Linked DNA regions of Homo sapiens. The protein of the gene in region 4 interacts with the protein of the main gene of each other region in a biochemical or structural test. Each region holds a gene or a part of one and is shown on either strand. Other genes may lie near its edges.

The links.
Region 1: the proteins of PTPRF (region 4) and GPC4 form a complex in vitro, tested with the Homo sapiens proteins (one study listed by BioGRID).
Region 2: the proteins of PTPRF (region 4) and VCAN form a complex in vitro, tested with the Homo sapiens proteins (one study listed by BioGRID).
Region 3: the proteins of PTPRF (region 4) and ARHGEF2 form a complex in vitro, tested with the Homo sapiens proteins (one study listed by BioGRID).

What each region holds. Positions count from the first base shown.
Region 1 is NC_000023.11:133,307,473-133,314,501, reverse strand, and holds part of GPC4 (glypican-4 precursor), read left to right. Parts: intron 1-3,078; coding exon 3,079-3,244; intron 3,245-7,029. UniProt on the Homo sapiens protein: Cell surface proteoglycan that bears heparan sulfate. May be involved in the development of kidney tubules and of the central nervous system.
Region 2 is NC_000005.10:83,467,589-83,474,743, forward strand, and holds the start of VCAN (versican core protein isoform 1 precursor), read left to right. Parts: upstream 1-4,155; 5' UTR 4,156-4,435; intron 4,436-7,155. UniProt on the Homo sapiens protein: May play a role in intercellular signaling and in connecting cells with the extracellular matrix. May take part in the regulation of cell motility, growth and differentiation. Binds hyaluronic acid.
Region 3 is NC_000001.11:155,961,548-155,968,576, reverse strand, and holds part of ARHGEF2 (rho guanine nucleotide exchange factor 2), read left to right. Parts: intron 1-1,689; coding exon 1,690-1,757; intron 1,758-2,097; coding exon 2,098-2,161; intron 2,162-2,816; coding exon 2,817-2,946; intron 2,947-3,164; coding exon 3,165-3,274; intron 3,275-3,445; coding exon 3,446-3,589; intron 3,590-5,393; coding exon 5,394-5,644; intron 5,645-5,858; coding exon 5,859-5,984; intron 5,985-6,354; coding exon 6,355-6,472; intron 6,473-6,667; coding exon 6,668-6,916; intron 6,917-7,029. UniProt on the Homo sapiens protein: Activates Rho-GTPases by promoting the exchange of GDP for GTP.
Region 4 is NC_000001.11:43,526,112-43,533,899, forward strand, and holds the start of PTPRF (receptor-type tyrosine-protein phosphatase F isoform 1 precursor), read left to right. Parts: upstream 1-4,771; 5' UTR 4,772-4,979; intron 4,980-7,788. UniProt on the Homo sapiens protein: Possible cell adhesion receptor. It possesses an intrinsic protein tyrosine phosphatase activity (PTPase) and dephosphorylates EPHA2 regulating its activity.

The DNA.
Region 1 (7,029 bases), on a different chromosome or scaffold from region 4:
CAGCACTTAGCCAAATAATGAAATGGAAGAACTCTGCCAAACTCAGCATCATAATTTCCCTTAATAAAACTCTACTGTGTCATTTAGTTTGGTCTCTTTTTAAAACTTGAGCCTCCATCAGCCTATTTTAGGGGAGGGTACTACAAGGTCTGTTGCATAAATGATTTGACTTGCAATTGAACTAAGAATACAATGAACCACTTCCTAGAGTTATTTTTTAAAAGAATGAGAAAGGACTTCTTTGAAAAAAGAAGTGTTTTCTGAATATAACTATTTTGGGTCTAAAATTTTTGCTCATTTCCTAAAGTCCTGTACCACATTGGAATTGCTTTGTATTTTGTAGAACAGGTTTTGTATTCTAATATAGAAATTCTTAACTTGCCTTGTTACCTAAATTCAAATGCATTCCAGAATAATCCCTGGCACATAGTAGGTGCTCAGTAACTATTTGTTGACCCCTTAGCTTTCTACGTTTCTTCTTACGAGGGCATTGTCTCCTCTTAAGCATAATATTCAACAAATGCCACGTGCTATTCAGTGATTTTTCATTTCATAGCCACTTGCATAACTTTTACCTCTTTAAAATCTAGCCATTTTGCAGTCTCATCAATGTGGAACCCAACTAAAACTAAAGTAGGAAATAACCAGTGCCTAAGATTACAGTTTCCTGTCATCTGGCAGGGAAACGTGATACATCTGGGAAATCTTTTCATCACAAATGCTTGATAAGGTATAGTACTGGAATCCGATGTTGTGAGGTGACTGTCAGCAAGTTGCTTAATCTCTTTGGCTTTGGCTTGGTTTTTCTTATCTATCAAATGTGAGAGCAACACTCAGTGATCTCTCTGGTCCCTTCCAACTCTAAGACTTCTGTGATCCTATGCTTCTCAGGCCACCTCCCCCCTCCAGTCCTGTTTGCTCCTTTACAAAAGGAGAGGGGGACATGTAGGGAAGTCTTAACAATCTGTGACTTTAAAGGAATGAACTTTCAGCTGTCCAGCAAATCTGGCTATCCAGAAAAGGCCATTCCTCCAGGGTATATTGGTTAGCCAAAATTTTACTGTACATTAATACATAGTTAGGACTAATTTAGTGCCTAGGAAAACATTTGGGAATGGTTAAAACTGTGGAAAAATCTTAATTCTTGGTAGGGCAGTGTATACAATTACCATTTTATTGTTACACGTATTCCCCCCTTTTAGGCTAGAGCCTTGTTTGGGATGAGGGGAATGGATGTGCACATGCATCACGTAGGAGCCTGACTGTTTTTTTTCTCCTGACACCACTAATCCCCTGTTCCTGTTCCTAAGGGCACTGCTGATAAGTGATATCCAAAGTAACACTCCAGAGCAGGTGAAGTGCATTGCCGGGCTGCCCTGCATCCCAGCATCTCTTCCCTGTGGTGGTATCTGCCTCCAAAAGTCTGTGTTAGCAGAACTGGTGGGTACTTACACAGAAGAATGCACTAATCCTCTGATACTGACTCCAAAAGAGGAGGGTGGGGCAGAGAGAAAGAGGAGACAGGAACTTTTAATTAGCTGCTAGAATGCTATACCTAGCCCCAATCCTTTCTAAGCATTGAGGAAAACAAGTGACCGGATGGAATCAGCTCTTCTACACCCCAAATAATTTCACTTTATAAAACTAGATGAAATGAAGTCCCATTTCTCTGGAGAGGACAGCCAGCCCAATCTGACTTGGGTAATGTTTCTGTCTTTCTTCCTTTCCTTCCTCACAAACTTCCAGTCATAGCCCCATGTGTCCTGCCATATGGTGTCCCTGTTTGTTTGTTTCTCCTTTCTTCCTTTCTTTCTTTTTCTTTCTTCCTTTCCTTTCCTTTCCTTCTTCCTTTCTTCCTTTCTTTCTTTCTTTTGAGACAGAGTCTCACTCTGTCACACAGGCTGGAGTGTAGTGGTGAGATCTCGGCTCGCTGCAACCTCCGTCTCCCAGGTTCAAGCAATTCTTCTGCCTCAGCCTCCTGAGTAGCTGGGACTACAGGCACACACCACCATGCCCGGCTAATTTTTGTATTTTTAGTAGAAACGGGGTTTCACCATGCTGGCAAGGCTGGTCTCGAACTCCTGACCTTGTGATCCGCCCACTTCGGCCTCCCAAAATGCTGAGATTACAGGCGTGAGCCACCGTGCCTGGCAACTGGTATCCCAGTTTCTGCCTGATGTTTAAGCCCCTCTAAATTCTGGCCACACGCATACTCCTGTGCACCTGACCTTATTTCCCGCAATTCCCCAACCCCATTCTGAGATGCAGTGACATGTCCTGTACTCTCCTACAGGTTTTGTTCATTTCATTGAACTTAACTCAGGATGCTCTCCCTTTGTTTGACCACTTAAGTCCAGCCCCTTTCTCGAAAATTTAACCAAAGCCCCACCTCTTTCATCAAGTGTTCTGTGAACACTCTGTGCTTTAGTACTCCCAAGCCTTGGAAAACCTTCACACACCCCCTAAGTTTAAGATTACTCATATTCTGCCTTGTAGAATATATTAACTTTGCCTTCTGCACAGCTCTTGGCACAGAACAGAAGACACCGTAGGTACCCTTCTAAACCTTAATTTGGGGTTAGGGTTCAAAGGACAGCCTTGTAGTCAATGTAATGCAGAAGAAGATGTGCTTCTGTTCCAGTCTGGCAAAGACAAACACTGATGGTTGAGGCTATTAGCAGGACGTGCATGGTGGGCACATGAAGATAGTCTCCTCCACTGCATCTCATGGCTCACCCTGCATAGTTATTTGTAAAAGGATTTTGAGATAATTGAGCAATTTATGTGTGTGTGAGAGAGAGACTCCAGGAGGGAAGGGGGTGGGGGAGGAATGGGTGTTTACAGGGTGGGAGTTGGTGCACCTTGTTTGTTTTGGGTCATCTCCCTCCTCTCCCCTGTCCCAACATGTATCTTTTATCTAATCTATGTCTTCAGGAGGCAGTCCAGGCTTACTAATTGTGATCAATCACAACTCATTCTTAAGTTCATGGCCAAGCCTTCAGTGTCAATGTGATAGAAGCAATTTCTGTCTCTATTTTAGCCCCGCCACTACTGTCTTTTTTTCTTTTCACACATTAGGTAAACCCCACAGCCCAGTGTACCCATGCCCTGTTGAAGATGATCTACTGCTCCCACTGCCGGGGTCTCGTGACTGTGAAGCCATGTTACAACTACTGCTCAAACATCATGAGAGGCTGTTTGGCCAACCAAGGGGATCTCGATTTTGAATGGAACAATTTCATAGGTGAGCAAGTGGTTAACATATTTGTGTTGCTGGAGATAGCTTAGCTTCCAGTCACAAGGAATGTTGTAATTGGCAGCTATGAAATTTGTTTGTTTAAGTGTTTGCTATTTAGTGTTTGTCAGAATCCTGACTACGCTCAACTACTTTGAGAATAGTAAAAACATTACTGCAAGTGAATGTTCCCTCAAACTAATGGTGGCATTTCTGAAGGTAATAGATACAGTGGCTGCCAGGTTTTAATAATGAGAAAATGCCTTTTTCTTGGAGACAGAGTCTCTTTCTGTCACCTAGGCTGGAGTATAGCAGCACAATCATAGCTCTGTGTAACCTGAAACTCCTGGGTTCAAGCGATCCTCTCACCCTCAGCCCCCCAAAAGCCCTGGGATTATAGGCATGAGCCACTCACTGAGAAAGTGTCTTTTTGATATTTCCCGCCTGAAAGTCAGTTGTGTTTATGATTATAGGCTTGTATCCATGTAAATGCTGGAGTACAGTCCTCATGGAGTTGTAAAAGTGGCTTTTAAAATGTTATATCTATTACACTGCAACTAAATCTTCTGCAAACCGGCCAGATACGCATTTGTTATTTGGATCAGGTGAAATCTGATTGAGAAATTCAGGGATTCTGTTTCTGTACACCATTTAGCAGTAGTAGTCTGCTCTGGTGAGAGTGGAAGGACTTTAGCCCTGAGAATTTAAGGGATACATATTCCTGCATATATATTCCACCTAGAAAACCATTCTCAGAACCCAGACAGCAATGTAAATGAAGTGGCCAATTGCAGAGAGGGTTAGTTATGATTTTGGGGAAAGGACAAATTAAGGAGAATTTAAATGTCCAGTTGTCAATTACCTTGATGCCTGAAGCAACAGTAACCAGTGTTGAAGTTCCTTATGCTGAGTATTAGTAGGACCGCACACACATACTAACAGCTCACAAAAAGAAACTCACATTTTTCCCCACCCTAGTCACCTTTGCATAATTGCCGAATTTGAGTGTCTTTATAAGCACCTGTTTTTCACTTATTTGTCCAAATCATGGGAACATGTATGCAGTATTCTGGCTTGGTTTTTTGGGGGGAGGTGAGGGGTGTTAATGTTGGGGAATGCTTTTTAGTCTGTGTGAGAGCTAATTACCATATTAACTCCGTTTGAAAGTGCATCAATAAATTGGCTCCAACAGATTCTTAAGAACACTGACACAGGGGGATAAAAAAAGATGTGAATATTAAGCACTTCAGCACAATTGTAGCCTAAATAGCTCAAAGCTAGAAGACCTGAAAAAATCTTCTACACACAGAAAAGCAGAATCTCATGAAAGGGAAGGCATAAGACCAGCAAAGACATACAGGCCAAATGGCACATCATGCCCAGAATGAAGCCATGGGAGAAATTGTTGATTCAAAATATTTCTCATGGAAGTAAAAACCCATAGAATTTCCAGATCTAAAGTCGCTGTTTTTGTTTTCTCTCTCTCTCTTTAATCCCACACTCATCCCCACACCCAAATGTCAAGTTTGCAGTTCACTTTTGCAAAATTGAATTTTTAAAGAAAGTTGGTGATCCTTTTCAATTGCCCCTATAATTCACTGTTTCTCCAGGCAAGGTAGTAGAATTTGCCATATGGTACAAAAAAGTGTATGGTGACAGTGATCGAATTCTGCTGACTTTTCTACAGACACATTGGGAATGGAATGCAGAAGGGCATGGCCCTTGCCACTATTTTGATACTCTAACATGTCTAGCAGCAACTATAACTAAACTCATATCCTTATATTAAAATACAAATGCTCCTACGTGTTTTTCCTGGAGTTTACAGGTCCATATCAAATCAAAACCACACTCTGGCTTTCTTTATTGATGTTTTAAATCAGTTACTCGAAAACAAAGAGGACTTAAGTTGCTGTTGTTGTTCTTGTTGGGCATTTTTAAAATTACATTTGTTATCTTTGAAGAAACAAACCCAAGTAGAAGTTGATAGGATTTCTGAATCGATTTTTCCCTAGTTATTTTAAGTGATAACTTTTTGGAGGGATGAGGTATATAATTGTATCTAAACTTTGTTTTTAATGGGTATACTATTCTTTATTTCTAATAAGCAGATATAAAAGACCAGGAGTAATAGACATTGTTAATCTCCAGTGCTTTTTCATGAATTTTTCACAAGGGTTTAATTAATCTGCTTTGTGGTTGTAGAATTCAGTCCCAATTTACATGCCTCTGCTGTAAATTCTTTTTTTATTTCTTGTCTCTCTCTCTTTTTTTTTTTTTCTGTTTGCAAGGAATTTTTCTTTCCCCTTTAAATGACTGCAGCTAATGAATGGTCAAGGGCTTTTTCCCCCTTCTTTAAATCAGATCTTGGGGTTAAGTCGGGAAACTGCCTTTTGTTCTTCCAGTCAGGTCGGGAGGCTGAAGATGTGGGTTTCTGATTATTGGCAGCACAATGCAAAAGGAATCGCTTTCCCTAGTGAGAAGGGGATGCTTTGTTGCTGGGGGTATGGGGGGAAACTCAGTGCCAGTGTCTTGAGCACTGAAATAATGCAGTTGGACTAGACCCTTTAAGAGACTAAGGATGAACTGGTTTTCCAAATCCGTCTTCTTGTTGCCATGCTCTTCCTCTCCTCTCTTAACTGCATCTGCAACTGGCCATGAATTGAGACCCTTTAGTAAATGTTGAAGTCTTGTCAGCCTTTTATCAGGATGGATCCAAATAGTTAAAACACCTTAGAACTTGGTTTTATAAGACGCTGGTTTATATGAAACCTTCACTTGGAAATATAAACCAAATACCTCCCTTGCCCCCACCAACAAAAGTCAGTTTCTGGAGAATCATAAATTATGCTATGCAACTTGTTCTCCATCACATACTGTAGCTGTGTTAACACTCATTTGACTCAGGGCCAACCCTATTAATGTCGCATGTTGCTGCCAGTGGGAATTTAGTATTGGGATTGCTGGCGGGGACACCAGCCAGGTCCTGGCAGGAGGCAGGAGCCAGTCAGATATCCCGCAAACAAGGGCCTCCGTGGCTCGTATCAGCCAGAAGAAAACCCAAACTCCAAACCAATCATCTTTGGCTTTCTCTTGAGGCTTCTTATCAGGGCTGGCTGCTGTTACAGAAGAGCCAATTGATAGCCAATCATGACTTCCTCCAGGGGTTAGAGGCAGCTTTGGCTCCCGGGCTGCAGAGTGCAGGCAGAATGCTCTTCAGTTGCATTCTTCAGCTGCGCAACACACAACACCATGGCACCGGCCCCAACAAAGGCCCAGCTTCCCCCTCCATTCCCAGGCTCTTGTGTATAGCCGGCTGGCTCAGAGTTTACAAAGACGCCAAACAGCCAGAAGAATTGGGGTTTATGTTTCCTTTCAGTCTTTCACAAACACATTAGTGATCTGGCCATTCCTTGCCACTAGGGGAATAAGGAGTTACAAAATGCACTGGGTTTTGTTGTTGTTGTTGTTGTTGTTATTTAAACGTCTGCATTTTAGATGTTTATTTTCTGTCTATTCATAATATTTTTATTGGGAGCAGGTGATTTCTTCTCAGCTTACGAAGGAATGTGCTTTCTGTACGTGGCAGCCCTGATGATTTGACAATGATGAACACATTTAAGTTGTGCTCCACTTGTTTACAAAAGTCTCCTTTTGCTAGCACATCAAAAGCATTTTTTTTCTCTCCTGTAGTACAATGGTATATTCATGCTTTCAGCCCTTACTTAGAGTTAGAAGCATCACTTGATTGGCGCTTACCACAATGCATTCTGAAACTTCATTTGTTATTACTG
Region 2 (7,155 bases), on a different chromosome or scaffold from region 4:
CCTATATTTTTCAGACTGTGGGGAGAGAAGAAAAAGACTTTGAGAAAGTGACTAAGGAGGGAGTAAGAGTGATACAATCTTTGATTCAATTTAGTTGGACTGTGTTCTTTATGCCTTCATCTTTTTCTTTATAAAAAAGATAGCGTTTTTGATGCTCTGCTCCAGGCAGCCTCCCAGGGTGAGTGCAGATGTGCTGAGCCATTTGGCTGCCTTGAGGACCGGCTCAGAGAGCCTCTCTTCTCACTAATGAAGTCATCTCCTCTCGGCAGCCCGGCCTCTCCCATCACTCCATGTTGGAACTTGGCTTTGGCTTGCATAGTTCTGTCGTGATGTAGATGGTCTTTCAGTTAAGTTCTAGAGAAATCTGCTCAACCATGAACAGGACATTTACAGCACAGGAGAAAAAAAAATTTATTAAAACAAATATTTTACTGTAACATTTTGATTTGGGGGTTGGAGAGCAAAAACTCAATATCTGATGTCTGGGAAAAATCTAATGTTTTATGGCTTTCTAAGGAAATTTGTCTGTGTTTAATTTATCAGAGCAATTTATATACTTCGGGTTAAAGCACAATGAGATTGCCACCATCACTTTGCCTTTTGCAAGATTTCTTTTTTAAGAATAAAAAGAAGGCAATAAAGACCTTGTATTTCTGCCTTTCCTAGAAAGCCAAAGAGAATTCAAAGTGCTGGATGAAATGTCTGTCCCTAATTTGCAGTGTTTTATTTAAAAAAAAAATTATGACACAATCTTAGAGGATAGGCTTCCTTTTTCCAGGGTCTTTGAAAGTTAAAAGTACATTTTTAATCTGTAGCATTACTGTATCATCCAGTGAGGATAATTTGCTTAGTTGTGCCTAGGACCAGTCAGATCAAGGAGTTGAAACTAAGCTCTTTCTGAATTTGAATGGGACTGGAATCTTGTCATCCCTAGAGCAGCAATAGATGATGCCATGTCTAAGAACACTTCACCTGATCAATAAAAAAGGAGAAGTCTGAAATGTAATCCTAAAGAACCTCAGAAGGAGGTTTAGATGAAGATAATAAAATTCCCTGGAGACACATCTGCCATCTACACCTTTCCTCTCCAAGTCATTGGCTTGCTGCCCCTGAGCTCAGCCAAATTCCCAAAGACAAGATCAAAGCAAGGAAGCAAGGCACATAGCTTCTGGCTTATGGTTTCTTTTAGACACAAGCATTGTGAATGAAGATCTTGCTTTATTTATACCTGGGATCTTGGAGTTTTCACAAAGAATATCCCCAGTACAAGGATGTGATTTAAAGGGGGACTCACAGAATAATATTTTAATTACTGTTTGATTCATACTTGAGTGTAATGGACAAATAAATACAATTTTAGTTATAAAACCTGAAAAATATATATTTTCCCATTCAAAAACTTCTGATAGTTTTGTCAGGCATTGGAGAATCAGAAATAAATGCTCTCTCATTTTCTTTCTCTTGATGAAGGAAAGTCATTAAAAACAGTTACATAGAAATAATAATACAACTGTAGACTCTATTCTAAATATAGCTGGTATGTTTTCCTTTTTCTTTTTTATCCATTCTCCATTTTAGACAGCTAGAGGGGAAAGTCTGCCCTAGAGATAGAAAGAAGATATCCATGGGGTATAATTTCATTTTAGTTATCTGATAGCCTGAAGAAGTATTTAATTTTCTGAATAATAATGTTACAAGTCAAAGAAGAGAAAAGACAGGCAGTTTAAAGCTTTTCAACATTGTGCATATTCTAATTCCTTAAGTCAGCCCTGAGAAAGTGCCTTTGTCCTGTAGAAGTATTTGGTCAAGTGTTGTGAAGTCTATTGGCATTAAAAGAAACTAAAAATTTTGGAGGATTAGAGAATCAAATTTGGCAACATAAATGAAAACATCTCAGAATGTAAAAAGTATCTAACCCATCACTTTCAATCATGTTCCATTATATACAGATGGCATTATTTATAGTGAATGTTAACTATTAACATTTCCCTAAAAATGGGCATTAATCTGCTATTAGTTGCTTGTTTCTGATCTAGTTCTCCTTTGTTGAAAGGTTTTACTTAACTGTATCATAAAGGGACAAAAGGGTAAAAGATAATAAGCTTTTCAGACTGGCAGATCTGTCACTTACAAAATGGCCTTGGGCAGGTTACTTGAACTCTTTGAAACTCAACTAGATTTACTCAAATTTAAGAATGAGAATACAAATCCACATCTTGAAGTGTTTCACAGAAAGGTCTATCTTAATGTCTGGAGTATATATTTCAATGAACATTCATTTTATTTTATTTCTCTCCATTCCTGAATCAAGCAATCTTGAATCTAAAGTTGCTATGATTAGCACTGAAAAGACCACTGGACTATTAATTGTGTGACTTTGGGACAGTAACTTTCTGCACCTTAGTTTGTTTACATGTTATACATGAAGGTTGAAGTCTGATTCTGCTCTGTGACTATCATTCTAAACATCTGATGAAATCAAATTTCAGTGTTTGGAATGGTAGTACAATAAATTTACTAAGAATAAATAATTCACTGCAAAAACACATTGATTTCCAAATGATGTAACTGACAGTTATATTACTGCAGAGGGCTGATAAATAACAAAAGAAATGAAAGATGCACATGGTGAGAACTGAAATTATCCTGACAAGTCTTCTACCTGTTTATCACTTAAAATCAATGACCATGCTGAATGCCTACAAATTACAAAATATAAAAGAAATCTTATAAATGCGCATGTACAGGAGTCTAAGTTACTAAAAGTTTTAAAGCATAAGTTTAAACCAAACTAATCAAAGAAGTTGAGAGGAAAAATTGGCTTTCATCTTTAATCACTACTGTTTTGAGGTCCTATGTTTAATATAATTTTCTAAGTAGAGGCTTCAGAGAGAAGAGTTGTGAGGATACTTTCATATTTGTGTAGAAGGAAAAGTTTGCCATCCATTCTAGTATCCCTAGTGTTATACTGATGTGCACCTTGGATTTATTTTGTTCCTATTGTATAAACTCATACTTGACTTCAAAGAAAAGGAAAATCCAAAGTCCCTCTTTTCTAAGGGGACAGAAATCCTTTGTGTCAACTGTTTGACCCTTTTCTCTGTAAGGTCCTATTGGAAATCTTTTGTAACACAATGCAGGGGACTCTTCCATGTGTTGATGCTGTTTACACAGTGGGGTGGGCCTGACTGAAGAAAAAAAATCGCATATACGCATGAAAGATTATGGTCTTATTTCCGGAAAGCATGAAAGGTGATTGATACTTCCAAGAAGTCCCTGTTACTCAGGAAAATTATCAAATATTCTACTCAGAGATACTTGGAAAGACTGAAGGAAAGGAAGAACGAAGAAAGCAGAATCTAGACTTATGTGGGGAGAGATTTGTGGCAGAGGAAAAGTATTCTCTTTGAATCCGACAAGGGATTTGCCTGGGGGAATTTCCTGTCCAGCCTTTTATTACCAGGGTCTTTTGAAGCCGGGCTCCCCATTGGGCAGTTCCCTGGGAGTGCAGTGGGGAATTCTTACACTTTCCCTCTAGGTCCCCGAAGGATCTCGTTTTCTCAGTGTCTCTTTCAGGTTGGCAGGAGCCTTGAGCCTGACACTTCCCTTTGATGGGACAGGCAAGCTCTGTGGGCGCGTAAACACGCTGTAACCAAGTTCTTTGCTGATTTTACAGTTTTGTGTGCTCCCGAGAAGAAGTGATCGTACTCAATTGTCTATTGCTGGCCTGCCCCCTAAGAGCCTGGGGGCTCCTTTCCCCTAACCCAGAACTAGCTGCACGGGGGGCGGGGAAATGGGGGTGGGGAAGGAGTGGGAGGGCAGTGGTTTCCGCGAGCAGAGCGATGTTACTGAGTGAGTCCCTGAATGGGGAGCGCTGCTGTCCCCAAGCCGATTGGTACTTCTTGTCAGGAAGAAACGCCAAGAGGTGGGAGTGCCTGGGGAGGGAGGCAGGCGGTCCCTACCGCAGGCGCGGGGAGCTGCCTTTCCGCCCCTCCGCCTGCTTTCCAAGCCTGGACTCTTAGGAGTGGCTGAAGCTGCGGAGCGCTTTTGGAGCCTGTGAATGAACCCTCCTCCTCTCCCTCCTCCTTCTTCTCGCTGAGTCTCCTCCTCGGCTCTGACGGTACAGTGATATAATGATGATGGGTGTCACAACCCGCATTTGAACTTGCAGGCGAGCTGCCCCGAGCCTTTCTGGGGAAGAACTCCAGGCGTGCGGACGCAACAGCCGAGAACATTAGGTGTTGTGGACAGGAGCTGGGACCAAGATCTTCGGCCAGCCCCGCATCCTCCCGCATCTTCCAGCACCGTCCCGCACCCTCCGCATCCTTCCCCGGGCCACCACGCTTCCTATGTGACCCGCCTGGGCAACGCCGAACCCAGTCGCGCAGCGCTGCAGTGAATTTTCCCCCCAAACTGCAATAAGCCGCCTTCCAAGGTAATCACGTTTCTTTTGTTCCCCCCTTAAAAAACAAAAACAAAAAACTTATAGAAAAAAACCCGCGAGCTTAGAAAAAAGAAGCAATTGGTAGAAGGCTTTAATTAAGGCAAAGAGCTGTAAGGCGAAGTTAAGAAAATGTAGGCACTTAAAAAATGCAGGTAACTTTCATAAGGGCTTTTGGGGAGAGGCATACAGAGGGACCTTGGTGTTGAAAAAGATTCAGACAAAAGAAACCCAGGGTGGGGTGGGGGGTAAAATGACTAACGGAATTGGGGGAAGGGAGGGAATAAATTGTAAAGAAATCATAGAAAAGTGGTGGGTTCTTGAGCTGGAGAGAAGAGAGGGACCTTTGGCACTTTGATTTTTTTGTTGTTGTTGTTCTTAACACGCTCGAGGCAAAAGTTTGAATGGGGACTACCAAGACTTGCCACAGACAAGTCCCCGAAGCCGCCTTGGTGCAGGCCACCTGGTTTCCCAGCCCCTGGTGTGTGGTCAGTGCCTGGTGTTCCTGGAAAGCCACTCCCGGGCAGCTCCTGACAGTGCGACCCGGCGCCCAAGCAGCCTGGGACCTTGCGCGGACCTGACCCCTTCAGACCGCAGGCAGTCTGGGAGGAGGTCCGGCCGGGGGAGGTGCAGGATCCCCGCCGTGTCTCTTTGACGACTTGGGGACTGTCACGGTTCTCTCCCGGCGCCCCTGGGTTCTTTTGTCCTGCACGCGGTGCGAAGGGGCCAGCAGGGAAGGAGCAGAGGATGGGGGGTGGGGTTGTTGGAGCCCCGCGGAGGTCTGGGAGGCCCCTGGGCGGGAAAAGCCTGTTCTGAATCGGCAGGGATGTGCAACAATTTTTCTCACCCTGAAGAGTGAAATAGGGTCTGTCGCTCCCATCTCAACAAGCAAACCGGCACCCAGAGCGCACTGCAGACAAAGGTGGCTCGGGGACCCGAATCAGGGGCCTCTGGGTCAGTCCTCTCGCCCAGACTACAGGAGTCCTCCGTTTCCTTACATATTCCCCACCCTCTCCTAGTTCTCCGCTCTAGTTGAGCAACTTTACTGGCAGGTCTAGCGGCAGCGGCGCGCGCGTGTGCCGGGAGCCCCGGGGGACGTCCTCGGCTGGAGCGCCCCACCGTCCTGCAGAGGCGTGGGCGCTGTAGGGCGACATCCCTGGTGCGTGCAGACCTAGGGCATCCGGGTTGTTCTGGCCCGCGGTCTGTGTCACTGGGCGTGGAGCGGTCTGGGTGTTAGGCAGAGGAGAGCGGGGTAGAAAAATAGTGTCATAGCCTAAACTATTTGCTCTCCAATCCAACTGCGTCTCGGCAAGTCCTGCATGTCCCTGGGAGATGCTGCGGGAAGGGGGAGAAATCTACACGGCGCCTGGAGAGTTGTCCTGCCGCGCGCACACCCGCGGCAGAGTCTCTCTGGGTCGCGTTCCTCATCTTTGTGTCTCCCTCTGTCTCCATCTTCTCTGCCTCCCTTCCCCTCTCCCAGCCTCTGTTCTCTCTCTCTAGCTTCTGCGTCCCCTCCCCCACAGCTGACAAATGAATGGCTAGTGTGAAATCCCTGCCTTTCCCGTGCTCCAAGGCAGCAGGGAGGGAGGAGCGAGGGAGGCGGTGCGCTCCTTCGGATCTGCCCCCAGTTCAGCTCACAAGACTTGCAGAACCTAGATGTCTAGGAATTGGGAGTTTTGCGGCGGGTGTGGGCGCCCCCTGATGGAGAAGTCCCGCACAGGCGGAGAAAAACAAGCCCCCCAGACCAAGCGAGCATCTTTCACAACCTTGTGTTCAAGGATGGAAGGCCCTAGTTTTCCCTTAAGTCATTCATTTTGCACTCCACAATCTGCGGCGTACATCTAGGAGTTTGGAGGACCCTGAAAAAAGGTCTTGGTCTGTGCAAAGTGCAGAGATGCCTTCTCGCGAGTCGGCTGGAACGCACGCGGCGCCCTGGGTCCAGTTCGCCGCTTAGTGGACGAACGCACATGGCCAGGGTGGAGCCAGGTTTCGGAGGTCTAGACGCGCCACCCTGGGCGTCTTTAAGAAAGATAATACACATACCGTGCTCTCAAAACCCATGACCACTTGAACCCAACGCTAGGGCCCCGCCCCAGGATATTGCAAAAGAAGGGCTCCTAATCCAAAACTTAAACTTCCTCAACTTCAGGGCGGGCGTCGGACGGGAAAGTGGAGAGAAGGCGGGCAGTGGGAGGAAAAAAGAAAGGGAAGGAAGGGAAGTGGAAGGAAAGAGGACCGTGGAGGGGAGGAAAAGGAGAAAGGAACGGAGATGGGGCAGATGGCATTCAAACAGCCAGGAACGGACCGGAAGGGTTCGTTTCGGGGTTTGGGTCTGAATTTCGAGACTCGTTTTAGGATACTCTTTTCCCTTTCCCAGCGGCAACAAATGTGACTGCAGAGGCGTGCCGGGATGGAAGGGTGGGAAAGAACTAGACAAGCGGAGGTGGTCCAGCCCCGCCCAAAGGGGCTGGGTCTGGGGCCCGCCCCCACTCGCTCACCTCGCGCCAAGGGAGGACCCGCAACGGGCGCTCCCCGCAGCGGCTGGGTTAGCCAGCCGCCACGTGGGTTGGCGCTTCGGCTCCCAGCCGAGACGGGTGTGACTTCCTGGGCTCAGAGACTGCAGTACAGCCGCACAGGCGGCCGGCGCAGCCGAGGCCCCCACCCACCGAGGCCAATGGGGGCGGGGCGGGGAAGGCAGGGCCCAGCTTAACCGA
Region 3 (7,029 bases), about 110 Mb from region 4:
TGTGTGTTGAGGGGCAGGGGTTAGAATTCCTGCCCTTCATCCACATCTGAGTGTAGTCCTGTCTTTAGGGAGTATAAGCCAGGAATTCTTTCCTTCCCCAGTACACAGAGGGCTCCTGCTGCCCCCTCTCCCTCAATTCCTCCTGAAGTTATGGCAGAGATGCCTCTGATTAGAGCAGGATTGAAGGTATTGTGACCTGCTACTGAATAGCGGACAAAAGCTCTAGCCTGTAAATCCCTATGAAACTTGGGGAAGGAACCCCCAGAAAGGACCAGTGATGGGCAACCCGCTCGGGTCCCCTTCTACGCTGTGGGAGCTTTGTCATTTTGCTCTTCACAATAAAGCTTGCTACCGCTCAAAAAAAAAAAAAAAAAGAAAGAAAAGAAAACCAGTGAAGCCTCCCTACTTTCCTCACTGTTCAATTTAGAGTTGTGAGGATGAGGAGGGAACCCCAATCTAGATCCCTATAGAGACCTGACAAAATTCCCAATCCGGAAGCTTGTTGCCAGGGGAACAGGGGAGGCGGGCAGCACTATTTTGAGAGCAGGTGGAAAGCGGAGGTTCAATCCAGAGACACTGAGTGTTGGGGGTAGGAGAAGGGAGCTCCAGGGGGGTGGGGGCAGCTGCAACCCCCACTTCTGTCTGCCCCCTCTGCTCCACCCTGTTTGCCTTGTATTTGTGGAAGTGAGCGTGGTGCTGGGTATTGTCTGAAAGAGTTAGCAGAGTTTCCGGTGTTGTTGGATGGGGGAGGGGAAGCTGGAGAGGGCCGGGAGCTGAGGGCATGTCTGGGAAGGGCACGGCCAGGGTCCCAGTGCCTAGGCTCAGCGAATCCTCCTTTCTTCTTCTCTCCTACCCCATGGCAAGGTGGGGTGGAGGATGGCGGAGAAGCAGATGGAGTGTGGGAGCTGTGGATTTGCCTGAGTTGGGGGAACAGGACTCCCTGGGCCTGGAAGGGAGAAGGCCAGGCTTGGTGGGGAGTTGCCTGTCCCTTCTTTACCACTGGAGCCATCAATCAGCCTTGGAGCTGCTGAGGCCCAGCCAGAGTCCAGGGCATGTGGTGCGAGGGAAGGAGCACGGCCTTTGGATTCAGGCCCACCGGAGTGTAAACACCACCTCTCCCACTAGCCGTGTGACCTCTGATGGACGATTTAGCCACTCCAGGACAGGTTCCTCATACATGAAATGAGGATAACTGAACCTCCCTCTACGGGTGGTTAGGATTAAGTAAATGTGGAACATTTACTATTATAAAAGCTCAGGGAATGTAAATTTCCCCTCTGCCCCTAGCCCCCATTCTGGCTGCCTCTGTGCCATCTTCTGTTCTGTGGGAGTCCTCTCTTCCATCTGCCATTCGCAACCACCTTCGTGCTTCTTGAGCTCATCTCTGGCAGCCAGTGACCCCTGCTCCCCTCTGGTCCGCCCTTCAGGCCACCTTGGGGTCAGGATTGCCCATCCCACTTGATTGTTTAATTTCATTCAGCACCTATACCCCCCTCACTTCATTTCCTGCTTGAAGGAAGAGGGAGGTGGGAGGAGAGGGACTGGGGTGTGGTAATGGCCCAGAAGTCGGGGAAGGGGGGAGAGTCCCCGAGGACTGTGTGGCCAGGAGGAGATGGGTGTCTGCATGTGGGTGTGTCCCCTCCTGTACCACCCGGCCCTCCCTTCACCCTCTCTACCCCACCCTCCCAGCCTGCAATGTGACTATCCACAACCGCTGTAAAGACACCCTCGCCAACTGTACCAAGGTCAAGCAGAAGGTGAGACGGCAGGGAGGGCAGAGGGCTGGGGGAGAGGGTAGTGAGTGTGCGGTACCCTCATGCCTTTTCCATTCATTCCCTACCCTGTGTTTCTCACCACCCACCTCCTCACCAAGGGGCAGCCCAGACCCTCAACCCCAGGCCTCGGGCCCCAAGTAGGCCAGGCCTGTTGCTGCAGACATGTCCCCACAGCACTGGGCTCAATCACCCTGATCCCCTTAACCATAGTGCCAGCTTTCTCCTAAGGGGGCCGGCCACCTAGCTCCTGTCCCATGCCTCTGGGGGTGATCCTTGGGTGACAGCCATTCTTGGTATCTCTCTCCTGCTCTCTGTCTCACAGCAACAGAAAGCGGCCCTGCTGAAGAACAACACCGCCTTGCAGTCCGTTTCTCTTCGAAGTAAGAGTGAGTAGTTGGGGAGTGGAGGAGGTCCCCTAAGACCCTGGACCCCAGGCTGCTCAACCCATGGGCTCTGCTGCCCCACTAAGGTTGTTCCCAGGCATAGCACCTTCCTCTTCTTGATTGGAAGCAGATAGTGGGGGCCTAAGGGAGGGTTCGGACTCTTGGACTTAGAGGCAGAAGGGGAGAGAGAGTCCGAATGGGGATGAGGGCTGGGGATGGGTGGTCGCCTGAGCCTGGCCGCAGCCTGCATTTTTATCAGTTATTTACACTGCATTTCGGGAGTGTTGGTAGCAGCTGTCAAGTGTCAATTCAGACAGCTTTGGTGTAACAGAAAGAGCATGGCCCTTAGGTATAAAGAGCAGAGCCTCAGTCCCTGCCTAGCCATTACCCAAGTCACCCTGGACAAGTCTTTTTGTCTTTCTGAGCTCCTGTTTGTTTATAGGCTTATGTCAGGGAGGAGATAAGTAAGAAAAAGCTCTTTGTGAACATTAGAGTATGGCACAAATGTAAGGTGGCATTCTCATTACCATCTTTCTTGACTAGAGGGGCTGAGGTGGAGTGAGAGGATGCCTCATTCCTCATTGAGGAGCCTAGGAGGCCTCAATCCTGGGAAGCACCAGAGTCTGATGTTTGCCTGCTGGGCATCTCTCCCCCACAGCAACCATCCGGGAGCGGCCAAGCTCGGCCATCTACCCCTCCGACAGCTTCCGGCAGTCCCTCCTGGGCTCCCGCCGTGGCCGCTCCTCCTTGTCTTTAGCCAAGAGTGTTTCTACCACCAACATTGCTGGGTGAGCCTCTGTTTGGGGAAAGGGGCAGCCAGAGAGTGTGGCAGTGGAGGCCAAGGGGGTGCTGAGAGGTCCCTTTCCATCCCTGAGTTCAGAACTGTAGACAGACAAATAAGGAGAACTTAGGGGGACCGCCTCTTGGATCCTGGCTTTGGTTCCCTACCTGGGAAGGGATCTTTTGCCCGACTGGGGGTGATGCAGACAGCCTCCACTTTCTTCAGACATTTCAATGATGAGTCTCCCCTGGGGCTGCGCCGGATCCTCTCACAGTCCACAGACTCCCTCAACATGCGGAACCGAACCCTATCCGTGGAATCCCTCATTGACGAAGGTGAGCAGGCCTGGGCCCAGGGGAGCCCTGAGGAACATGAAGAGGGGCTGGGGGATGAGAGGCTGGTGGGAGTAGCCTGGAAGGACAAGGAGGGAAGGGATCTAGAGAAGGGCCAGGGACCCAGGGAAGGGAACTCAAGACCTCTGAGTTGCTTGCCCTGCTAATGTCCAGCAGAGGTAATCTACAGTGAGCTGATGAGTGACTTTGAGATGGATGAGAAGGACTTTGCAGCTGACTCTTGGAGTCTTGCTGTGGACAGCAGCTTCCTGCAGCAGCATAAAAAGGAGGTGATGAAGCAGCAAGATGTCATCTATGGTAAGCCAAGACCACCCTAGTCTTCCTCTTCCTTCACCAGGTCCTGTTTATCTACTTCCTTCTTTATTTTTCTTTTTCTTTTTTTTTTTTTTTTTGAGATGGAGTCTCACTCTCTCAACCAGGCTGAAGTGCAGTGGCATGATCTCGGCTCACTGCAGCCTCCACCTCCCAGGTTCAAGCGATTCTCATTACAGGCGCCTGCCACCATGCTGGCTAAGTTTTGCATTTTTAGTAGAGACGGGGTTTCACCATGTTAGCCAGGCTGGTTTCAAACTCCTGACCTCAGGTGATCTGCCCGCCTCAGCCTCCCAAAGTGCTGGGATTACAGGCGTGAGCCACCGTACCCGGCTGTGTCCTTCTTTCTACCAGCCCCTACCTCTCAAAACCCTTTCCCTCTTGGCCTACAAGACCCTGCCTGGTATCCCACAGGTTGCCCACTAGGTCCCTACCTCTTGATGCTGTTGGTCTCCAACACCCTCTCTTTATCCCTTCTTTATCTCTGTCTTCAGTCTTTACTCTGTGCTTGTTCCACGCTTAACACCGTGCTGGAGACTGTGGGAAGCCTCGACATGTAGAAGACATATGGTTCTTACCCTAAAATAGCTCACAGCTTGAGATGATAAGGTGTAAAGATAAAAAATGGAACTGGGCGTGGTGGCTCATGCCTATAATCTCAGCGATTTGGGAGGCCGAGGTGGGAGGATCACTTGACGCCAGGATTTTGAGACCAACCTAGGCAACAAAGCAAGACCTCTGTCTCTAAAAAAAAAATATATATATATATATATGTATATATATATATATATATATATATATATATTTTTTTTTTTTTTTTTTTTTTTTGAAGCAGAGTCTTGCTCTGTCGCCCATGCTGGAGTGCACTGGCGCTATCTCGGCTCACTGCAACCTCCGCCTCCCAGGTTCAAGCAATTCTCCTGCCTCAGCCTCCCAAGTAGCTGGGATTACAGGCGCCTACAACTACACCCGGCTAATTTTTGCATTTTTAGTAGAGACAGGGTTTCATCATGTTGGCCAAGCTGGTCTCGAACACCTGACCTCAGGTGATGCACCCGCCTCGGCCTCCCAAAGTGCTGGGATTATAGGCGTGAGCCACCGTGCCCAGCCGTCTTTAAAAAATATTTTAAAAAACTAGTCAGGTGTGGTGGCATGTGCCTATAGTCCCAGCTACTTGGGAGGCTGAGACAGGAGGATCGCTTGAGCCCAGAAGTTCGAGGCTGCAGTGAGTTATCATTGTGCCACTACACTCCAGCCTGGGCACCAGAGTAAGACCTCATTTCTGGAAAAAAAAAAATAATAATAAAATTTTTGAAAGATAAAAATGAGGGCCGGGTGTGGTGGCTCATGCCTGTAATCCCAGCACTTTGGGAGGCCGAGGTGGGGAGATCACGAGGTCAGGATTTCGAGACCAGCCTGACCAATATGAAGAAACCCCATCTCTACTAAAAATACAAAAATTAGCCGGGCCTGGTGGTGCGTGCCTGTAATCCCAGCTACTCAGGAGGCTGAGGCAGGACAACTGCTCGAACCTAGGAGGTGGAGGTTGCAGTGAGCTGAGATCGCGCCATTGCACTCCAGCCTGGGCAATACAGTGAGACTCTGTCTCAAAAAAAAAAAAAAAAAAAGATAAAAATGATTAGAAAAGTATCTAAGATCATAATAATGCAGAATATTAACCTGGAATGGACCTTGAAAACCTCACGTGAACTGTGAGGTCCTTATCCTAGGGCCCCACGAGTTTTAGCCAAGCCAGGGTAGAGGCCAAATGTCCCAATGTCCCCCACAGAGCTAATCCAGACAGAGCTGCACCATGTGAGGACACTGAAGATCATGACCCGCCTCTTCCGCACGGGGATGCTGGAAGAGCTACACTTGGAGCCAGGAGTGGTCCAGGGCCTGTTCCCCTGCGTGGACGAGCTCAGTGACATCCATACACGCTTCCTCAGCCAGCTATTAGAACGCCGACGCCAGGCCCTGTGCCCTGGCAGCACCCGGAACTTTGTCATCCATCGCTTGGGTGATCTGCTCATCAGCCAGGTGGGAAAAGGCAGGACCCCTGGGTGACATTCATGGAAGGAGGTGTGACTGGGTTGGGCATTTCTTGGGTCCAAATTCTAGGGGTTGGAGGGGAGCCAGGGAGAGCTGGAGAAACAGGAAGCCAGCCTGTTTGGCAGGAGGCCAGAGGTGTGTCCAGTGGGTAAAGTGTGGCTTTGGGGGAATGCTGACCTAACCTTACTCGACCAACTTCTAGTTCTCAGGTCCTAGTGCGGAGCAGATGTGTAAGACCTACTCGGAGTTCTGCAGCCGCCACAGCAAGGCCTTAAAGCTCTATAAGGAGCTGTACGCCCGAGACAAACGCTTCCAGCAATTCATCCGGGTGAGCGGACCTCTCCAGATCCCATGCTCATGGCCCAAACCCACCCTCCCCAACTCATGGGGGTAGTGCCTGTGAGCTGCACCCACATGGAGGTCAGGCATTCGCCACCCGTGCAGACCATCCATACACAGATCCTGTCAGCAGTAACCCCTCAGAATGCTAGAGCACGTTGTGGTAGTTTCCCAAGTACTTTTTGCTCCTTCAGTTGGTCCTCACAACAAACCTGTGGCGTTGTTATCCCCATTTTCCAGATATGTCACCTAGGCAAGCATGAGGTAAATGGCCACGCCAGGGCCAGCACCAGAGCTCAGGCCCCAGGCCTTTCTGTTGCCCTCCCCTCTGGCCCTGAGCCCTGCCTCCTCCCTTGTAGAAAGTGACCCGCCCCGCCGTGCTCAAGCGGCACGGGGTACAGGAGTGCATCCTGCTGGTGACTCAGCGCATCACCAAGTACCCGTTACTCATCAGCCGCATCCTGCAGCATTCCCACGGTGAGTAGGCAGGCCCAGGAGAGGGCCACTGGGAGACGGCCACCTGGGGTGAGGAAAGGCTCGGTATGACCACAGGAAGGGTGGGGTCGGGTGTGAAACCCTGGGCAGCCTCTAAAGGTGGAATCAAGACACGATGGGAACTGGGGTGTGAGTGAAACTGGTTGAGCCGTTCCCCATGCCAACCCCCGGTGCCAGGGATCGAGGAGGAGCGCCAGGACCTGACCACAGCACTGGGGCTAGTGAAGGAGCTGCTGTCCAATGTGGACGAGGGTATTTATCAGCTGGAGAAAGGGGCCCGTCTGCAGGAGATCTACAACCGCATGGACCCTCGGGCCCAAACCCCAGTGCCTGGCAAGGGCCCCTTTGGCCGAGAGGAACTTCTGAGGCGCAAACTCATCCACGATGGCTGCCTGCTCTGGAAGACAGCGACGGGGCGCTTCAAAGGTCAGACCTGCTCGGCAGACTAGGCAGGAATTCAAAGTCAGATGGAGAGTGGGAGATGCCTGCAGGTCTTAGAATCAACCTCTCTTGGCCGGGTGCAGTGGCTCAACGCCTGT
Region 4 (7,788 bases):
TGAGCACAGGGGAGACAGAGCGGAAGGAGGAGAGGTGTGTGGGTTTGCGGATTTGGTAGTGGGAGATGAGGGAGTCCTCCTGTGGTGGCTTCTGTTTTCTCCGGGAAACATAAGCAGTGTTCATTGAGAAATTAACTCCTGTATCATTTCTCCCTGCCCATAGTGACTCAGCCGGAAGAAATGAAAGGCATTAGCCAGGGCCAGGCACTGCAGCTCATGGCTGCTGTAATCCCAGCGCTTTGGGAGGCTGAGGCTGGAGGATCTCCTGAGCCCAGGAGTTCGAGATCAGCCTGGGCAACATGATGAGATTTTGTCCCTACAAAAAAAATTTTTTTTTTTTAATTAAAAAAGCATTAGTCAAGCTTTTGTGTTCTAAGTCCTGGGCCTTTTTTCTCCCACCTCATACCTGAGAAAGTAAATAGGCCGTTTTGTAGTTCTTGTGTCTGAGCTAAGAGGGAGAATACCACTGTGTCTTGGGGAATTGATGCTTTGGCATGGAAGAGAGGGGCAGGGGAACAGGCATTCTCCATCCCACCCTGACCTGCCCCCAGAAGAAAGTGGCTGCATGCGATTCGAAAGCCAAGGACTAAGGGCTGCAACTGCGGGGGCCTGTGGGAGAGGTCCTCTTGAAAGAGCTGGGATGGAGGGAGTAGAGGGTTATCTTCCCAAGGACCAGGTTGGACAAGTGAGGCCCTGCAGATGGGCAAAAAATAGTGGAAGCCCTGTGACTGTGACCACTGATGTCTGCAACAGCAGCAGCAGCAGCCTGAAAAATCCTTCCACCTTTCTCTGCAAGGCTGTGGAGCACGGACTGACCATCTCTGGGATTGTGCAAACCCCTGGAGTTCATGGATGATCGGAGGGAGCTGAAGGGCAGCCATGAGTGATAGGGAAATCTTGCTGATCTGATGGGTAGAGACTCAAGCTGAATTTAATTTGGTTTAGACCAACTAAGGGATGACCAAAAGGTGTATTTACGTCATGAGTTGCAGAGAGTGTCCAGTTGGCCCAGGACCTGGACAAAGGGTGAGCAGTGAGTGGGAGCTGACATCTGGCTCTCTCCTCACCCTGCACCCTGGGGCTGGAACACAGCAGACACACAATGACCACATGGTGCCACTCGGCCTTCACAGATGAGCACAAGGACATCCCTCCCCGCCAGGCCCAGGAGCAGGGCAGCAGGGCAGCCCCACGTGGACCCCGTGCTCACAGTTTGGCAAACTGGACAGAGCCTTGGCTCTTCTCCTTCAGCAGCTATCACGCTCTCCCAGGCCCGGCCACCTGAGCTTCTCATCCATGTGGCTTTGGCACCTAGGCCTCTAGTTTCATTACCTTGGGTTTGTATCTAGTTCCAGATGGCGTACATGCAGAGATCTGGGCAGGCTGCTTACAGGCATTCTCTTGCCCTGCCTCGACAAACACTTTGCCACATGTGGGTGAATGAGAGGGCAGACGCCAATGGGTTAGGATTCTGAGACCCCTGTGTCCCTGTGGGGTTTGGAGCAAGAGACTGGTTGGCACAGCAGTGAGCACATCTGCTAACTTCAACCACAGGAAGCCAGGGGTCCCAGCTCACCTACCTTCCAGTACTGTGCTCAGTAGCCTTGACAATGCGGGGCAGAGGGAACAGGGCTGCCAGAGCTTCAGGACTACCAAGGCCCAGGCTAGCAGGCACACAGGCTAGCGAACACCACGAGCCCCTCTTCTAGTGCATGCCAGGGCTACAGAAGACTGGGGCTGGATGAGCTCTAAGACTTGGTCAGGGAGCTGTTCCCTCACTTAGTCATTTATGTCTGATGGTTCCTTGAGCACAGATAGGAAAGTCAATCTTCATTCTTTAACAAATATGTATCAAGTATCTATTGTGTGTGAGGACCCTGTGCTGGCCACTGGGATATGACAGGGAACAAGGTGGACTCATTTCTCCTGCCTGCAAGGAACTGCTGTCCACAGGTCAGGGAGATAGGCACAGATACAAACAGTGGTGACAGCCAGGATGGCTTCCTGGAGGAAACAATGGTTCCAAACAGGTACAGTTGGCTCTGAGGTGCCAAAACACACTAAAGGTAGAGCAAGTCTTTTATTTTATTTTATTTTTTAAAACAGAGTCTTGCTCTGTGGCCCAGGCTGGAGTGCAGTGGAGCAATCTCCACTGCAACCTCTGCCTTCCAGGTTCAAGCAATTCTCCTGCCCCAGCCTCCCAAGTAGCTGGAATTACAGGTGCACACCTGGCTAATTTTTGTATTTTTTTTTTCTTTTAGTAGAGATGGGGTTTCACCATGTTGGCCAGGCTGGTCTCGAACTCCTGACCTCGGGTGATCTGCCCGCCTCAGCCCCCCAAAGTGCTGGGATTGTAGGCGTAAGCCACCATGCCTGGCCAGTAGAGCAAGTCTTAAGGGGCATTATATTATAACTGCATGCAAGAGAAGTTAGGACCAGTTTGGCTTTGTGCGTGTGTGGACTGAAACCCAAAAGCCAGAAACTCTCTGCATGTGTCCCTCATGGAGCCATATGGTCTCTAGTCTCTGTTTTTCAAAATTTGCAGGACTGATGACTGATTGGACAGTGGTGCAGGAGGGAAGGTCTCTGCATGTCAGTGATTAAATTGCTGAAGATGCCACTGCCTGAGACGGGCAGTATTGAAGGTAAGCAGATCTGGGGTGGGCGGGACAGAGGAGGCTCTTAGTTATATGGATCTGGAGCTCACAGGAGCGGCCCAGACTGGAGATAGAGACTTGGAAGTCATCAGCATATGGTTGGTAGTGGTCAAGATGATCCAGAGAAAAGGGGCAGAGCAGGAGAAAAGAGGAGGCCTAGGACAGAGTCCCGGAAGAGCAGAAGACGAGGTGGTAAAGGAATCAGAGACAGTAGCCAGTGAGGAGAGGGTGGGCCAATGAAGCCAAGGAAAAGAACTGTTTTAATAACTCAGCAATGGGCAGGAATAATTGGCTGAAAAGTATACTTTTAAAATTTGGGGGCCGAGAGGGAATCTCTAAATCCTCAAAGTTCTGGAAAAAAAGGCAAAAATGCTTAAAGATGCATAAAATTTGCAATACCTCCCCCGTGGTGCACCAAAATTACCAATGGTGAAAAACCACTCACTGGAAATATTCATTTTTGATCCGTTTGTCATCCAAACCAAATTGTCCAGAATCACTGGAGCCAGTCCCATCCCCTCCTCATACGCCAGGGGGCGCACACGCACTGTTTGTGAATTCAAGTTCAGGACAAAAACAGGCAGTGAATCAGGTGGTTACCAGAACCTGATTCCTCAGCCCAGATCCCTGAACACCACAGCAACCATGCCCTGCACATTACCACGTGATCCCTGAATCCAGGCACCTCAACGATCTCCAAATTTTATTTCTCACCTGACTCCAAACTTACAGGGTTATCAGAAAGACCCCACAGAAGAAACCCCACAGAGGAGAAACCTCATCTCTTTTTCTGCTCAGTTACCTGACCCAGGGCAGTGGGGGTAGGTCCCCCATCCTTCATGGTGAAGCCTAGCAAGCGGCGGGGGGAGGAGGGGTGGGGTAGATAGGAAAGAGCTGGTGTGGCTTTGGCTGACTCTTAAGTGGTTTTAACACGGATTGCGTGGGGGCGGGGTCTGGAGGCAGGGGCGCTTGGATTGAAGCTCATCAAATCCCTCTGATCAGTAGGTCTTGGAATAAATCTTCAGGTAGGTTATTGGTTTCACCCAGAAATTTCTAGGGTCATTATTTGAGTTTGGTATGAGAAGTCAGAAACTCAGTACTGACATTTAAATTACATTTAGAGGGCATTATCATGTCTTTAATTCCGAGGCCAATGTAAGGTTCACAGCTGGAATTGGTATAATATTGGGGTATTAGTCAGTCTCTGCTTGGGGTTGACACTAGGTCAGAGAAGTGGAGGGTGAACATGAGGATGAAGGGGCTTTGTGTGGAGTTTCTGCAAAGCCAGTCTTATCTTGGGTTCCAAGATTATTATTAAAGCTGGGTTGGTTTAGGGTCCTAAATGGTCTCAAGTTTGGGTGGGGTTTCAGGTCAGTATCTGTGTTTGGGGGTCCTTTTATGGTGACCCAATCCCAACTCTGGAATTGAGAATCGAATTCAGAGTGCATTGGTGTTGATCTGGGAATGGGAGAGCAGTACTGGAGTTTTATGTAAGGCTTGGGGTTCAGAAGAGAGATAACTGGGGTCCATAGCAAGGTAGCTTTTGGACTTTAGGGTTCATTTAGGGACTGGGGGCTGAGCATTAGTACAGGGTTCCATTTAAGGTCCAGCGTTGGTGCTAGCGTCACTATCAAGGTTAGGGCAAGTAGAAGTAATAAAGAGATTTAGAGTCAGAATTGGTATTTGGGATCAGTATAGAGGTTCACAACAAAATTACTACTTGTGCTAATTTGGGGGCAGATTAAGGGCTTTGGACTCAATATTGGGTTTAGGGCAAGGTGTGGGCTCAGTATCAGGTTCAGATCTGTATGGGGAGGAAATGGGGTCCTAGAGTGGTATTAGGTTCATGCTAGGGCTGGGAGCCACTAGAAGGATCTGGATGTAGTATCAGAGTTTGGTCTGTCTATGTTCATTATTGGGGTTCGGGTTCAATATTGAGGTTCCGGTCGGTTTCGACTTGGCGTTGGGTTGTGGCCTGTCTGGGCCTCAGCGGCTCCGCGGCTCTACGAGCGAGAGTGCACGAGGGGAGGGGCGCCGCCGGGGGCGCGCACGGCAGGGGCAGGGGCGCGGGCGCGAGCGCGAGGGGAGCGCGCGGCTGGAGCTGGCGCGGGAGCGGCGGGAGCGGTGGCGGCGGCAGAGGCGGCGGCTCCAGCTTCGGCTCCGGCTCGGGCTCGGGCTCCGGCTCCGGCTCCGGCTCCGGCTCCAGCTCGGGTGGCGGTGGCGGGAGCGGGACCAGGTGGAGGCGGCGGCGGCAGAGGAGTGGGAGCAGCGGCCCTAGCGGCTTGCGGGGGGACATGCGGACCGACGGCCCCTGGATAGGCGGTGAGTGACCCCCCGGCCCCCCACCAGCCCCCTCCGCTCCCGTCCCTTCCCCGCTCTCCTTGCCCTCCCCGCTAGTCCACCCGGCGGAGCTGGGGGCGGTCCCGGGGGGGACGAGGGCGCCGCTGAGGCCGGGCCGCGCCCCCACCTGCCGCGCCCGCAGCCTCGGCGAAGCCCCCCCTCCACGCCCCAGCCTGGCGGCTCCTCCCCGCTCACCCCGCGGCAGACGCGCCCCCAGCGCTGCTGGCTGGCTCGCTCCCCGCCGCCCCTCGCCGCCTCCCTCCCTCTCCACCGCACCTTAGCCGCAGCCCGCCCCCCCCACCCAGCGCAAAGTTTCCCGTTTGCGTTCTTGCTCCCCCTCATCGGTCCCGCCTCGTCCCCCCTTCTAGCGCGGACGCGCTCCGGGGGCGGCCCTCAGACCCCCCAGCCCCGGGCTCCGGGCGGGTCCAGGCCGCGCCCCCGCCCCCGCCGCACAGGCGCCCCCTCCCAGCCGGCGGGGGATCCGCAGCCGGCGCGCCCGGGTCTCGCTCGCGGCCCCGGCGCACGTGCGGTCCCGGGCTGCGCCGGGCGCGAGTTTGAAGCCCCCCCACCCCCTTCGTTCGCGAGCACGGGATGGGGAGGGGCCGAACGGGCTGTACCCGCCCCCAACCGGGTGCAACGCCCTGGAGGCCCTGGAGCGACCTGTCCCGTGAGGACGTGGCCACTCGGACCCTCTCCGAAAGTTCACTCAGTGGCCGCCCCGCGTCCCGTCCCGTCCCGTCCCGGCTCCCCATCGCCGTGCCGGCGTCTCTGTCTCGGCTGCTTTCTGTTTTCCTCGGCGTCTCTGCCTCCCCGTGTCAGTGCCTCCCAATCTCACGCCCCTGCAATCCCAGGGTCTCTCCAGCTGTCTCCATTCTTTTTCCCCAGGTCACTCTGTTCTTTCTCCCCAGGTCTCTCGATTCTGTCTCCCTGGGTCGTCTTGTTCCCTGTCCCTGAGTCTGTTCTCTCCGCTTGGGTCTCTCTATTTCCTCTCCCTGGGTCTCTGTCTCCCTCCTTAAGTCTCTGCCTCTTGTCTCTCACCCATCTCTTGGTGTCTCTGCACTCTCTGTGCTAGGCGCCCCCCCATTTCCCTGGAATGCTGCCCCTCTGGTTCTTCCACCCCGGAGGGGGAGGGGCTAGACTTTCTCCCCATTTCAAGCCCCCCTGCCCCCCAGTGCACGGCCCCTGAGTTGGAGCAGGTTGGGGGTGGGGAGCGCTACCTGCCTGAGCTGTGAAATGGGAGAGGGAGGCTGCCCCAGCCTGGGGGTTGTCTGGATCTCCCTGAGGGGCCACAGGGCAGGGCCGGGAGGCTGGATTAGGTTGAGGAAGGCTCCACTTTTGAAGGAACAGGGGCAGGGATCCAGAGCGATCTGGTGTCGGATCTGGCCTGAGAAGCAGGGAAGTGCACTGGGGTGAGAGGCGTAGAAAAGGATGTGGGGTGGTGGTTCCAGGCGGGTGCTCATGGGGAGGAATCTGCTGAGAAGGGAAGATCTGGTGGGGAATCCTTTGGGAGGCTTCGGGGATCTGAGGGATCCAGAAGAGAGTTCTGACAGGCTATCTAAGGAAATTTCTGTGCTTAGCTCCTTATTAACTCTTGCTTCAGGGAGCATGAAAATCCCTGTTTTTTTACTGATTATATGAATGAGCCTAGGGCTTCAAGAAGGAGCAGGTGTAACTCCCCAAGTACAACCCCCTACATTCTCAGCCCCAGGCACAGGCCACACTTTCTCGTACCCTCTTGCCTTCATTTCCACACTCAGCTCACCCCCTCCACCCCCACACACACTCCCTATTCAGCTGCTTTCTTGCCCCCTCTCGCATACCTGGGCCCGCATGCCGGCCAGGGCTCAAGAAATCTGTGCCTGCACACTCTCGCAGCATACCTGTGCACATGCACAGTCATCCTTGTGTATTTTTGTATATGCACTTTCTTGCACATTTTACTTGCTCAGTCTCTTATTTGAAATGTCTTTATAGTGTTTTTTTTAGTTTCCTTTATAGTTTCCTTTTCCAGCTGCTCTTCCTCTTCCCTCTTTCTTTCCTTTAACAAGAAAATTGTTTTAACATAATTCCTTCCTTCCTTCCTCCCTTTCTTCCTTCTTCTTGCAACTACTGATACCTCCCCTTTATCCAGCTTTGTGTGCCCTGGGCGGGTTGGCTTGGTGTACAAGGCTGCCAAGAGAGGAGGGGGTGGTTGGGTGTTGGTGAAGGAATTTGGCGGGGCAGAGTTAGACTGCAGCAAACGGAAACTAGCTACACATCTTTTACTGGGAAGTGTATGGATACGCAGCAAAATACTAGCCCTGGCAGTTTGGGCACAGTCCACCCTTTTTTCCATCAGCCTGAACTATGGGAGTCTAGCTTTGAGGGTCCTCCCTGGGGGCGGGGAGGAGGGGACCCAGACCTCCTGCAGTAGAGGGGTTGTGATACACACCACGGCTCCTCCACTTTCCAGCTTCAGGCCTCAAAGAGGCCCCTTTCTCCCTGAGTCTCAATTTCACTCCCTGTAAAATGGGGTAGCTAATCCAACCCGGACTGGGTCCCAGGGCTGTTGTAAGAATCCAAGGGAACTGTGTGGCAGTGCATCGTCAGCAGTGGCAGTCACTTCCCTTGTGACTGACACTGCTGTGTGCTTGGTTCCAGCTTGCAGTCAGGGCCCTACCCTCGAGAAGCTCGTGGTCCTTGGGGGAGCAGGTTGCACCATGGGATTGCAAAAGCAATTCAGTTACCTGTCATTGATTGCTGACTGTGTGCCAGACCCCGGGGTAGGCGCTTTCGGCCCCGGCTGCCTTTC